2 linked regions of the Homo sapiens genome follow. The protein of the gene in region 2 interacts with the protein of the main gene of each other region in a biochemical or structural test. Each region holds a gene or a part of one and is shown on either strand. Other genes may lie near its edges. The genes, in order: USP5 and CACNA1H.

Region 1 (8,003 bases), on a different chromosome or scaffold from region 2:
AAAAAGACCCAGGTCCCATTTAAGGGCAGTAATGTGTTACAGGTGCTGTGATAAAGGCTGGGTACTGGATAGCTTGTGGGCTTATGGGAGGAGGCCTGAGATGGGTCAGGGGGAGAAGGTATTCAGCAGGTGGCTGGGGGACTGTGTGCAGCAGTTCGCTATGGCCTGCCTGTGGTGCCCATGTGTTTGTACGGGAGGGTTAGCTTGAGAAGGAATCAGATTATAAAAGGTCTTGAATGTCAAGCCAGAGAGTCCAGACTTTTTCCTAAGGGCAATGAGAAGCCATTGAGGAGTTCTGAGCAGAGTAGTAACATGATCAGTTATGCTTCTCAGAAAGATTGCTCCAGATCTTTCAGAAAGAAGCAGTGTAGGTTGATGAAAGGGAGGGACTGGCACTGGGGAAACAAGGTAGGAGGCAGGTGGCAAGAAATGCAAGAGCGACAGGACAGAGGGGTTAGGGAGAGGGATTAGGAAGAGATTAAAGATGTGGAATCAGCTGGAACAGTGGCTCATGCCTGTAATCGCAGAGCCTTGGAAGGCTGAGGCAGAAGGATCTCTTGAGGTCTGGAGTTTGAGACAAGCCTGAGCAACATAGTAAGACCCTGTATCTACAAAAAAAATTAAAAATTACCTGGGCAGGCTGGGCATGGTGGCTCATGCCTGTAATCCCAGCACTTCAGGAGGCTGAGGCAGGCAGATCACTTGAGCCTAGGAGTTTGAAACCAGCCTGGGCAATATGGCAAGACCTCATCTCTATAAAAAAAATACAAAAATTAGCCAGGCGTGGTGGCTCATGCCTATAATCCCAGCTACTGGAGAGGCTGAGACAGGAGAATCGCTTGAGCTCAGGAAGTTGAGGCTGCAGTGAGCTGTGATCGTGCCACTGCACTCCAGCCTGGGTGACAAGAGCAAGACCCTGCCTCTAAAAAACAAGCAAACAAACAAAATGTGGAATCACCAGGATTTAGTGACCAAATGCTAGGATATAGGACATTGGGAGGGAAGGATTCGAGATAATGGCCAAGGTTTGGGTTTGGTGGCTGGGTAGATAATGCTGTCATTCACAAGGATAGGGAAGAGGGAATGAGGAATAGCTTTTGGGGGAAGATCATAAATTCAGTTTTAGACAAACTGACTTTGAAGTACTTATAAAGCAGCTGGATAAAGGTCAGGGTTAGAGAGAGAGACCTGAAAGTTACCAGAATATAGGGAAGTGATAGCTAAAGCCCTAGAAGTAAACACCCAGGGAGAGCAGGGCCAAGGACAGAGCCATAGGGACACCATGGTTAAAGGGAGATGTGCAAAGAAGGCTCAGAGCATCAGTGGGCTCAGGCCAGGGAACGCAAGCTCTCTAGGCCGCCATTCTACACACAGAAAACTCGGTGCAAGGTTTACATATACCTTTTTAAAGTAACATTTAAAATTACTTCCTTTAATATAAAAGAAACACACAAGACACAAAGAAAGCCCAATAAAGCTGTGAGTCCCAGTTTGGTAGCTGAGGAGGAGTCTAAGAAAACAAGCCATTCCTCAGTATCCCTGGGAAAGAAGGGGTGAGAGGACACAGATATCACCAGGCCCTGGGTGACTGCATTGCTGGGGCCATGCAGGGCCTAGCTCTCCACCAAGGGAAAGTGCTGATTTTCCTTGTCATGGTCCTGGCCTTGCTCCCATGCTCGTCCTCCAGTTTTCAGAAGTCGTCCAGTTCCAAGAATGGCTCCTTCCTTTAGTTCACTAACATTTTCACTTAGGGGTGAAGGCCGCTTACCCTGAAAACGGCAGTGTATGAGTTGGGGGGAGTTGCTGTTCAGAAGAGGGAAGATCTGGGTAAAAGGGTCTCCCACCCTCTACGTTGGATATCCTAGTAACAGCTTGCACTTTCTCTTCCTTTACCTGTCGTAGTGTCAGGGTGCCAGGGGAGTTGTCATCCTGCAGGATGGTGAGGGGGGATCTCCCTAGTACCTTGCTGCTGTTTGGTTTCCATCTATTGCGCATAGAACCTGGGGTGGGTAAGGCGTTAAAGCAAGGACCCAAAACTAGGACTTACAGTTTATTCCTCCCACACTCACCCATGGACCTTATCCCAAAACATTATCCTAGTTTATCTTCCCTGCATCTTGCCTTAGATTCTGTACCTGAAGATCTGGGAGTCTCAGGGTCCCTTGAGGGCTTGTCGGAGCTCTGGCTGGCCACAGGGGTTTCTGTGGGCTGTCTTGCTTCCTCCTTGGAAAACACCTGTTTGGAGGGGAACTCAGTCTGGTTCCAAGGTGGCATCTGTTCCTCAACAGATAACTGGGTACCCAGAGGCAAGTCCAATTCAGAAGATAAAGGTGCCTCTGGGGGCAGAACAGGCTCTGGGGGAAGATTTGATTTAGAGTCTTCAGTTTCAAATACTTCACTCAGCTGTTTCACCAGTGGGCTTGGGGGGTCTAGAGGAAGAAAGTGAAGTGAACAGTGACCTTCTGATACACAACATTCAGCAAGGAGCAAAACATACAGAAACCCAGGACTCATGCCCAGGAGGGTGAGCAAGTGGGAAGAGAGAAATCAAGGAAATCAAGGTGAAAGGGAGCAATTTTTTTTTTTTTTGAGATGGGGCTTGCTCTGTCCCCCAGGCTGGAGTGCAGTGGCGTGATCACAGTTCACTGCAGCCTTGACCTTGTGGGCTCAAGCAATCCTCCCACTTCAGCCTCCTGAGTAGCTGGGATCACAGGCCCATGCCACCGTGCTTTTGTGTGTGTGTGTGTGTGTTATGTGTGTGTATTTTTTCTAGAGATGGGGTTTTGCCATGTTGCCTAGGCTGGTCTTGAACTCCTGGGCTCAAGCGATCTGACCACCCCGGCCTTCCAACGTGCTGGGATTACAGGCATGAGCCACCGCACCCAGGCTGGGAACAAAATATTGAGATAAGAGTGAGATGGGTCCGAAGCAGGAGGATAGAGGCCCCTTTAAGGAACCCTGAGAGAATGGCTTCATGGACCCTACCCAAGAATAATAGATGACAGCTTCATCAGCATTCCCTGGGCCCAACGCTTACCTCCACTGCTGGTCTTCATAGGTGTCCGTGCAATACCAAGAGTAGGAGAGCGGGGATCTGAGTCCTGGGCATGTTTAAGACCCTCCAGTTGCTCCCCTGCTGGTAGGCCTGGCTGTGGAGAGCTCTCCACCTGTCAAGACCATAGGCTAGAACAAGTCTGGGCCCTGACTCTTCTCTCCTCTCCTCCCCATATTCCAGGAAGGAATTGCCAAGGCCCTCAGATATCCAGCCTACCCCACACAGATTGAGATTGCAGAAAATAAGGCTAGGATAAGGGTGGGGTCATGACGGCTCTCTCAAAATCAGGTTAGGAAGAGACCCAAGAATTCAGACATTCTCTGCCTTTCCCACGCTGGCCCAGAGTACCTGGATGGGAGTGCGCAGGATGCCAGCACTAGGTGAACGGGGGTCCGCCACTCGAGCCAGATGCTTGTTGTGCGGCGGAGGCCGCGCTGGTGTGACTGGGACGCTCTTGGCTGAGCCCATCTCAACCAGGAGTTGCAGGGTGGGGGCAAGGGCCAGCCCGGGACGAGGAGGGAATGCCTGTGAGAAGTGACTCAGGTCTCAGCCCTTATCTCTTCCACGTCGGACCTTCAACCCTAAACCACCCTGTCTTCCCAGTTTCCAGTGAAGAAACTTCCTGGCGAGGGACCAGAGGCCTCTGCGGAGTTAATGACTGCTGCAGCTGACAAAATGGCTCGTTCTGGGCCTGCTGAGCCCTCTAACTTATTTATTAAATTATTCAAATCACTTACCGGGCCCCAATTCCACCTCTGGATGCACAACAGCTCGTGGCTCAACTCCCGAAGTTACCAGTTTCAAACTTCCCGCCACGCCCCCTGCCCTGACCCTATTGGCTGAGCCGACGTAGTTCCCATAGGCCCTCCACGTAAGACCCGCCTCGAGCCAAAGGAAGCTGTTGGTCTGGGAGAACGTCTATCATGGTGACTGTAGGTGTCAATGGACTGATGCTAGGCTTGCCCAGGGGTGACGCCTCCTTGATAAGGGTACTTCTGTTCAGTATCGGCCTGCGAGCCGTCCGTGGCAGGCTGAGGAGTGCCAGTCTTCGCTTTCGAGACGTCTAGTCTCAAGAACGAATTATTAAACAAAATAGAATCATGAGTGATTACACTATTATGCGCACATCCAGCTGGAGTTGTGATGGTTTTCCTGAGGCGAGCGATAGTAGCTTTATTGGTTGACAGCTGTATCAGTCACTCGACACAACCCCCTCAAGCTCCGCCTCACTGGATACCCCCTTTACAAATACCAAGACAACTGTCCCTCGACTTTCCGACCGGACAGGTCCCCAGGAAACTTTCTGGAATTGAGAGGCCTAAAACAACCGTCAGTTCCTGCTCTTCAATAGAAGGCACGCGAATGGACTCTAAGGGTCCCGGAGCCGGAGCAGCTGCGGAGCCGCAGCAGCTGCAACCCCGAAGCCCACCTAGCTGCTCTACGTGCGCTCCCGCCCTGGAGGAGTGGGATTGGTTCTTTCAACCATCAATTGCCTTAGGAGCGCTTCTCATTGGCGTCAGTCAAGCGCGGGGCAGGGGCGGAGCACCGGCAGGCAGGCTCCGTCCAACTGCCATTCTCGCGCGTCGTCTCCGCGGCGCATGCCCCTAACGAGTGGCGCTCATTGGACGGGAGGGGCAGGGGAGGGGACTGGGAACGGTGGGAGCCGCCGTGTGTGGAGAAGCTGCTGCCGGTGTCATGGCGGAGCTGAGTGAGGAGGCGCTGCTGTCAGTATTACCGACGATCCGGGTCCCTAAGGCTGGAGACCGGGTCCACAAAGACGAGTGCGCCTTCTCCTTCGACACGCCGGTAAGCCCATTCCCCACGCCCGCAACGAGCACGACTTCCTTCCATCGCCCTGGTCATTCCGCTGGGGCCTGCAAGGCTTGGGCTACCGCCTCCCTGCGATGCACCATGGGACTTGTAGTCTCCCACGCTCCACTCTGCCGTTGCCTTTCATTAACTGCGGCTGTCGTGTGACTACCGTCCCCGGAAGCCGCCGCGCTCACCTCTCCGGCTCCCCGCTTCGTGGAGCACTGTGGGCATTGTAGTCACTCACTGCCTTCGTTGCCGTTCTAAGCTAGGGGCGCAGCCCGACCGTCGGACTACATCCCCCAAGTGGACCCTTGAGAAAACCTGGCAGTCGGCCTTGTCTGCCGCGCACGGCTCTCCGGGTTTTGTAGTCTCGTGTAGGAGTGATGGGGACGACTCCCCACTGTTCTCGGCCGGGGTTGGAGTTGGGGGGTGGGGACCGCAGTTCCTAGGCGGTTAATAGTCTGGGAGTGGACTCTCAAGAAGTCCGATTCTGAGAAAGGCAGAGAGCCTCCACCCCGTGGTTAAAACAGACAGGGGGCGGGGAGGGGAGGAAAGAGGAGAGGAAAGCTCTAGTCGTTTCTCCTTTGAAGTGAGCAATGGCCGCAGCCCCCACCCTTCCCCCCGCCCCCCAGCCTATCACAGACAGCTGAGATAACCCCTTTTAAAGTATTCCTAGAGAGGTGGTTTCTTTCTCGGAGGATGCTAAGGCCTCTTTCCCATCCCGCTCCCACTCTTGGCTAGTTACACAAAGCCACCTCCCACACCATGCTTCACGTTTTGCAGGCTCCACCTGGTACCTCCCTTCCTGCAGTTCTGCCTTCCCTATGTCACCCTCAAGCGGAGGCCCTTTGGGGCCTGAACTGAGAAGGCAGCAGCTTGGTTGGGATCCGCCCCCCTCACCACCCCTCCCCTCAAGCTGCTGTGCCCTGCCCAGTGTATTCTGCCAGAACCAGCTCATGGCCTGAAAACTGCAAGTCAGAGTGGAAAGCCTTCATTACTGCATCACCAGTACTGAGTAGAACAGCATGATGTGAGGCCCAGTTCAGGATCATCACTGTGATTTGTGGTTTGCTTGGTTTGCTAGGCTTTGATCTGGGCCTCAGACAATGTGCTGCTTCTCTGAAGTCTGGCTTTGGCAGAGGTAAAAGAGCACTGCGCGGAGCAGAGCTCCGGGGTTCCCAATCCTTGGTGAAATCAGCATCTTTAATTTCCAACAGAGGAGTTTAATCACTTCAGAGCTCCCACATTCTTCCCAGGAGGGAAAGGTTTTTCTTAAATTACCAGCAGGTGGTAGAAGTCAGTGGGTCCCTCTTTACACTTTTATTCACTCCTGTCTCTCTCCTTAGTAACTGCTTTGAATAATCCAAAAAGGGTTTTTGTAATCTTCTGAAACTTTCCCTTTTTCACCCCAAGTCAAGAGATTTTCAGTGTGCCCTAGTTCTTTGCTAACCAACTTCCAGCATATTTGGTTACCTTCAAATTGGGCTCATGGTAGAAAGAGCTTAGTTGACCTCCCCGGTGAGAAATGCTCTATTTGTTCATGAACTTGCAGTACACACTGTTCCTAGGAAGTGGTACAGAGCAATCTATGGGACCAAGAACTACCTTAGACAGTGCACTATTTTTCATATCACAGCAGAGAAATGTTCAAGGCCACTGAGACTTTTATTCCTGGAAGAGGATGTCTGTTGTTGCTCAAAGCCTTGGATCTGAGGGAAGACCCTTATTGTCTCCAATTTCCTCCTCCACCTTCTCCATCACTCTTTACAAAGGCACTGGAAAACTTGGTCAGCTTTGGGGGAAGCCCATCCTCCCTTCTCAGCTGTGTTTCTGGGTGGACACCCGTCTGTCCCTGTTTTCACGGGTTATGTGTGTTCTAGCTATCTCAGCAAGTGTTGCGAGATTGTTGTCAGAACGGGATGGCTTTGAGATTGGTGATTTGTTGGGACTTCAGCAGGGATCTTATTGGTCGGAGGGGAGGCAGAGGAGAGAGGGTGGTGGCTATGGAATGCTGGACTTCATGACCCTGCCAGACTGGGTGCATGTTTAGCTGTGAGTCCCTAACAAGTCATTGTTCCCCTGGAAGCCACACTTCAGCAGGAGAGGAGGGAGAAGACTCACAGTGTGGACCAGGGTTCGACTACCTGGTAGAATGTGGTAAAAGAAAGGTCTTTTTCGCTGGATGTTTAGTCTCACCGCTGTAATCCCAGCACTTTGGGAGGCCAAGGTGGAAGGATTGTTTGAGGCCACACAAGTTAAAGACCAGCCTAAGCAACATAGCGAGACCCCACCTCTAAAAAAAAAAAAAAAAAAAATCTAGGCATGGTGGCATGTGCCTGTAGTCCCAGCTCCTTTGGAGACTGAGGCAGAAGGATCACTTGAGCCGGGGAGGTTGAGGCTGCAGTGAGCTATGATCGTGCCACTGCACTCCAGCCTGGGTGACAGAGTGCAGTGTCTCTAAAATAAAATTTTTTTTTTTTTTAAAGGAAAGGTAATTTTGCTTGCTGGCACACTCGGGTCAGATATACTGTTCAAGTGCTGGAATCTCTGCTCCTCTGGTCTGGAAGGTTTTCTGAATCATGGAGATGAGATAGGGTTTGTCTTAGGTGTCCCCTGGTTTGGGTTCAGTGTCTCACATGAAAGTCTTTCCTCTCCCACGAAGGGACCCTTTTTCCCTTTGAATGTAATCTCCAGCACTGGAAGTCCACAGTATTTGATCCCCATTTACTTTCTGGATCTGTTAGCCCCAGGATAGAGGTGAAGGAAGTCCTCTGTGATTGATTAAAGAGCTCCAAAGCCCAAGAAGGAGCAGGTGGAAAGATAAATGGTGACTGGTGTTGCTGTTGAATGGCGACGATGAGCTGGTGTTCCTCAGCCCCCTGATGTCCTTGTTGGTTGTTATCAAAGTCATGGGAGGAAATGGGGAGAATCTTAGCTATGTCCCAGGTCCTAAAAGGCTAAATAACTTGCCAAGGGCCACACAGTGTTAGAGAACAGAACATTTCTTCTGGAACCCAGCAGTTTCTGACTCCAGGTTTTGGTTTCCTCACCTGACCAGGCTTCATAACATCCTCGTGTTTTCACCCTTACCTCTTGTCCCACAGGAGTCTGAGGGGGGCCTCTACATCTGTATGAA
Region 2 (3,446 bases):
GGGAGGACGGGGGTGGGTGGCAGCTGGGCAGGAAGGCAGGGGCAGAGCTGCCAGCTTAGATTCTTCCCTGCCCCAGGCTCCGTTGCCTCTGTGCACTCTCCGCCCGCAGAGTCCTGTGCCTCCCTCCAGATCCCATTGGCTGTGTCGTCCCCAGCCAGGAGCGGCGAGCCCCTCCACGCCCTGTCCCCTCGGGGCACAGCCCGCTCCCCCAGTCTCAGCCGGCTGCTCTGCAGACAGGTAGGAGAAGCCGTTGGCCTGCAGCAGAGGCTGGCGGGGATGGGGGGCTTGCAGGGATGCCTCGTCTCATCTGAAGGACCAGCAGACGAGGACAAGGCAGGAGGAGGGTCGCACTGGGTCCTTGGGGCTCCGAAGGTTTCTGCCTGCTGCTTGGTGGATCTTGGAGCATTGGGCCCAGGTGCGTCTTCAGGCCTGTGAGCCTGTGGCTACAGAGCTCTTGGCTACAGGGACCTGAGTCTTCTTGGACCCACAGCTTCAGGCCCCACGGTGGGCAGACAGCGGTTTCTCAGGTCCCGTGGTGGGCAGACAGCAGTTTCCCAGGGCCCACGGCGGGCAGATGGCAGTTTCTCAGGCCCCATGTGGGCATGGGTCCCGTGGTGGGCAGACAGCGGCTTTTTCAGTCCTGGCTTGTGTTCAGATGTCCCAGCCTTGCCCACCTGCAGCCTCAGCTCCTCTTCCTGCCCTTTCCTACCTCTTGCTGCCCAGTACAAGACGCCTGTACCGCACAGGAGCAGTTAGGAGAGCCCCATCCTGGGGGTGCCCAGCTGGGCTGCTGATGTCCAGGGGTGGGGAGGTGGCCTCAGCCTCAGCTCTGTGCCCCTGGGGGCCATGGCATCTCTGCCCACAGAGCAGCGGGTACAGGCTTTCCCCGGGAGCCTCACAGGTCAGGAGTGAGACTAGGACGTCCACACCAGCGGCTTCCAGCCCCATCTCGAGGGTCAGGAGCCACCCAGGGGACCTGCCCAGTTTGGCCTCTCCAGTACCTGGATGGTGAGGGGTCTCCGAGCCCTGGCCACTGACAGGGCTCTCCCAGGGCCCCGCCCCTCACTTTGACTCTACGCCCCCACAGGAGGCTGTGCACACCGATTCCTTGGAAGGGAAGATTGACAGCCCTAGGGACACCCTGGATCCTGCAGAGCCTGGTGAGAAAACCCCGGTGAGGCCGGTGACCCAGGGGGGCTCCCTGCAGTCCCCACCACGCTCCCCACGGCCCGCCAGCGTCCGCACTCGTAAGCATACCTTCGGACAGCGCTGCGTCTCCAGCCGGCCGGCGGCCCCAGGCGGAGAGGAGGCCGAGGCCTCGGACCCAGCCGACGAGGAGGTCAGCCACATCACCAGCTCCGCCTGCCCCTGGCAGCCCACAGCCGAGCCCCATGGCCCCGAAGCCTCTCCGGTGGCCGGCGGCGAGCGGGACCTGCGCAGGCTCTACAGCGTGGATGCTCAGGGCTTCCTGGACAAGCCGGGCCGGGCAGACGAGCAGTGGCGGCCCTCGGCGGAGCTGGGCAGCGGGGAGCCTGGGGAGGCGAAGGCCTGGGGCCCTGAGGCCGAGCCCGCTCTGGGTGCGCGCAGAAAGAAGAAGATGAGCCCCCCCTGCATCTCGGTGGAACCCCCTGCGGAGGACGAGGGCTCTGCGCGGCCCTCCGCGGCAGAGGGCGGCAGCACCACACTGAGGCGCAGGACCCCGTCCTGTGAGGCCACGCCTCACAGGGACTCCCTGGAGCCCACAGAGGGCTCAGGCGCCGGGGGGGACCCTGCAGCCAAGGGGGAGCGCTGGGGCCAGGCCTCCTGCCGGGCTGAGCACCTGACCGTCCCCAGCTTTGCCTTTGAGCCGCTGGACCTCGGGGTCCCCAGTGGAGACCCTTTCTTGGACGGTAGCCACAGTGTGACCCCAGAATCCAGAGCTTCCTCTTCAGGGGCCATAGTGCCCCTGGAACCCCCAGAATCAGAGCCTCCCATGCCCGTCGGTGACCCCCCAGAGAAGAGGCGGGGGCTGTACCTCACAGTCCCCCAGTGTCCTCTGGAGAAACCAGGGTCCCCCTCAGCCACCCCTGCCCCAGGGGGTGGTGCAGATGACCCCGTGTAGCTCGGGGCTTGGTGCCGCCCACGGCTTTGGCCCTGGGGTCTGGGGGCCCCGCTGGGGTGGAGGCCCAGGCAGAACCCTGCATGGACCCTGACTTGGGTCCCGTCGTGAGCAGAAAGGCCCGGGGAGGATGACGGCCCAGGCCCTGGTTCTCTGCCCAGCGAAGCAGGAGTAGCTGCCGGGCCCCACGAGCCTCCGTCCGTTCTGGTTCGGGTTTCTCCGAGTTTTGCTACCAGCCGAGGCTGTGCGGGCAACTGGGTCAGCCTCCCGTCAGGAGAGAAGCCGCGTCTGTGGGACGAAGACCGGGCACCCGCCAGAGAGGGGAAGGTACCAGGTTGCGTCCTTTCAGGCCCCGCGTTGTTACAGGACACTCGCTGGGGGCCCTGTGCCCTTGCCGGCGGCAGGTTGCAGCCACCGCGGCCCAATGTCACCTTCACTCACAGTCTGAGTTCTTGTCCGCCTGTCACGCCCTCACCACCCTCCCCTTCCAGCCACCACCCTTTCCGTTCCGCTCGGGCCTTCCCAGAAGCGTCCTGTGACTCTGGGAGAGGTGACACCTCACTAAGGGGCCGACCCCATGGAGTAACGCGCCCGGCCCCGATGCGAATCAGGCCTCCCCTACATCTGGGGGCGTTGGCCGCGAGATTCCCATTGACACCTTTGTTTCGTGTGCTTTTAAATTCAGGTTAAATGTTGCAATAATCTGATGCAGAAGACTCAGCTTCTCAAGGGAGAGGGAGGGGGCGGAGCGGAATAAATAGTAACTTATTTAAGAAATGCACTTGGATTCCTGCCATCAGTCAGGGGCGGGGAAGGGAGTACCATCCGCAGATGGGTGCAGCAGGCACTTGGCCAGCAGGACACAGGAGACTAGCAGAAGGAAGAGGCCGGGGAGGAAGAAGCCAGCCAGGAGGGGGAGCCTGGGGTACCCAGACTCTGAGCCCCCTGATGCTGTGATGTGGCGGCGGATCCAGTTCACGTAGGCAGGGACACGAGTGTAGACTCCCGGCCTGTTGGGGCGGCCGCAGCCCTCACCCCAGCTCACAGTGCCAGCCTGCACCCAGGCACCGTTCACCTGGCAGACCAGAGGCCCCCCGGAGTCGTCCTGAGGACAGAGAAGGCGAGCATTGGGAGCCGAGAAGATGGGGAGCCCCTCCCTGGGCTTCAGCCGCCCCCATCCTCTGTCACGGCCTGGCAGGCTCACCTGGCAGGCATCCCCGGGGCCCCGGGCACACAGCATGTCGGGCTGAAGGATGCTGCCCCCGGGGCCGGGATAGTCCCGGCGGCAGGTCTCTGTGTCCACCACGGAGACTTTCACCTCCCGCAGGCTGTACGGGGGTGGCAGAGG

Evidence for each region.
Region 1: the proteins of CACNA1H (region 2) and USP5 form a complex in vitro, tested with the Homo sapiens proteins (2 studies listed by BioGRID, with this or other methods).

Annotation. Positions count from the first base shown.
Region 1 is NC_000012.12:6,847,430-6,855,432, forward strand, and holds the start of USP5 (ubiquitin carboxyl-terminal hydrolase 5), read left to right. Parts: upstream 1-4,720; 5' UTR 4,721-4,750; coding exon 4,751-4,861; intron 4,862-7,925; exon of another isoform or gene 7,926-7,971; coding exon 7,972-8,003. Other genes in the region: CDCA3 (cell division cycle-associated protein 3), read right to left, coding at 1,614-1,769, 1,894-2,000, 2,136-2,429, 3,038-3,167, 3,404-3,523. UniProt on the Homo sapiens protein: Deubiquitinating enzyme that participates in a wide range of cellular processes by specifically cleaving isopeptide bonds between ubiquitin and substrate proteins or ubiquitin itself.
Region 2 is NC_000016.10:1,218,894-1,222,339, forward strand, and holds the end of CACNA1H (voltage-dependent T-type calcium channel subunit alpha-1H), read left to right. Parts: intron 1-76; coding exon 77-237; coding exon of another isoform or gene 238-415; intron 416-1,087; coding exon 1,088-2,101; 3' UTR 2,102-2,875; downstream 2,876-3,446. Other genes in the region: TPSG1 (tryptase gamma preproprotein), read right to left, coding at 2,895-3,203, 3,303-3,446.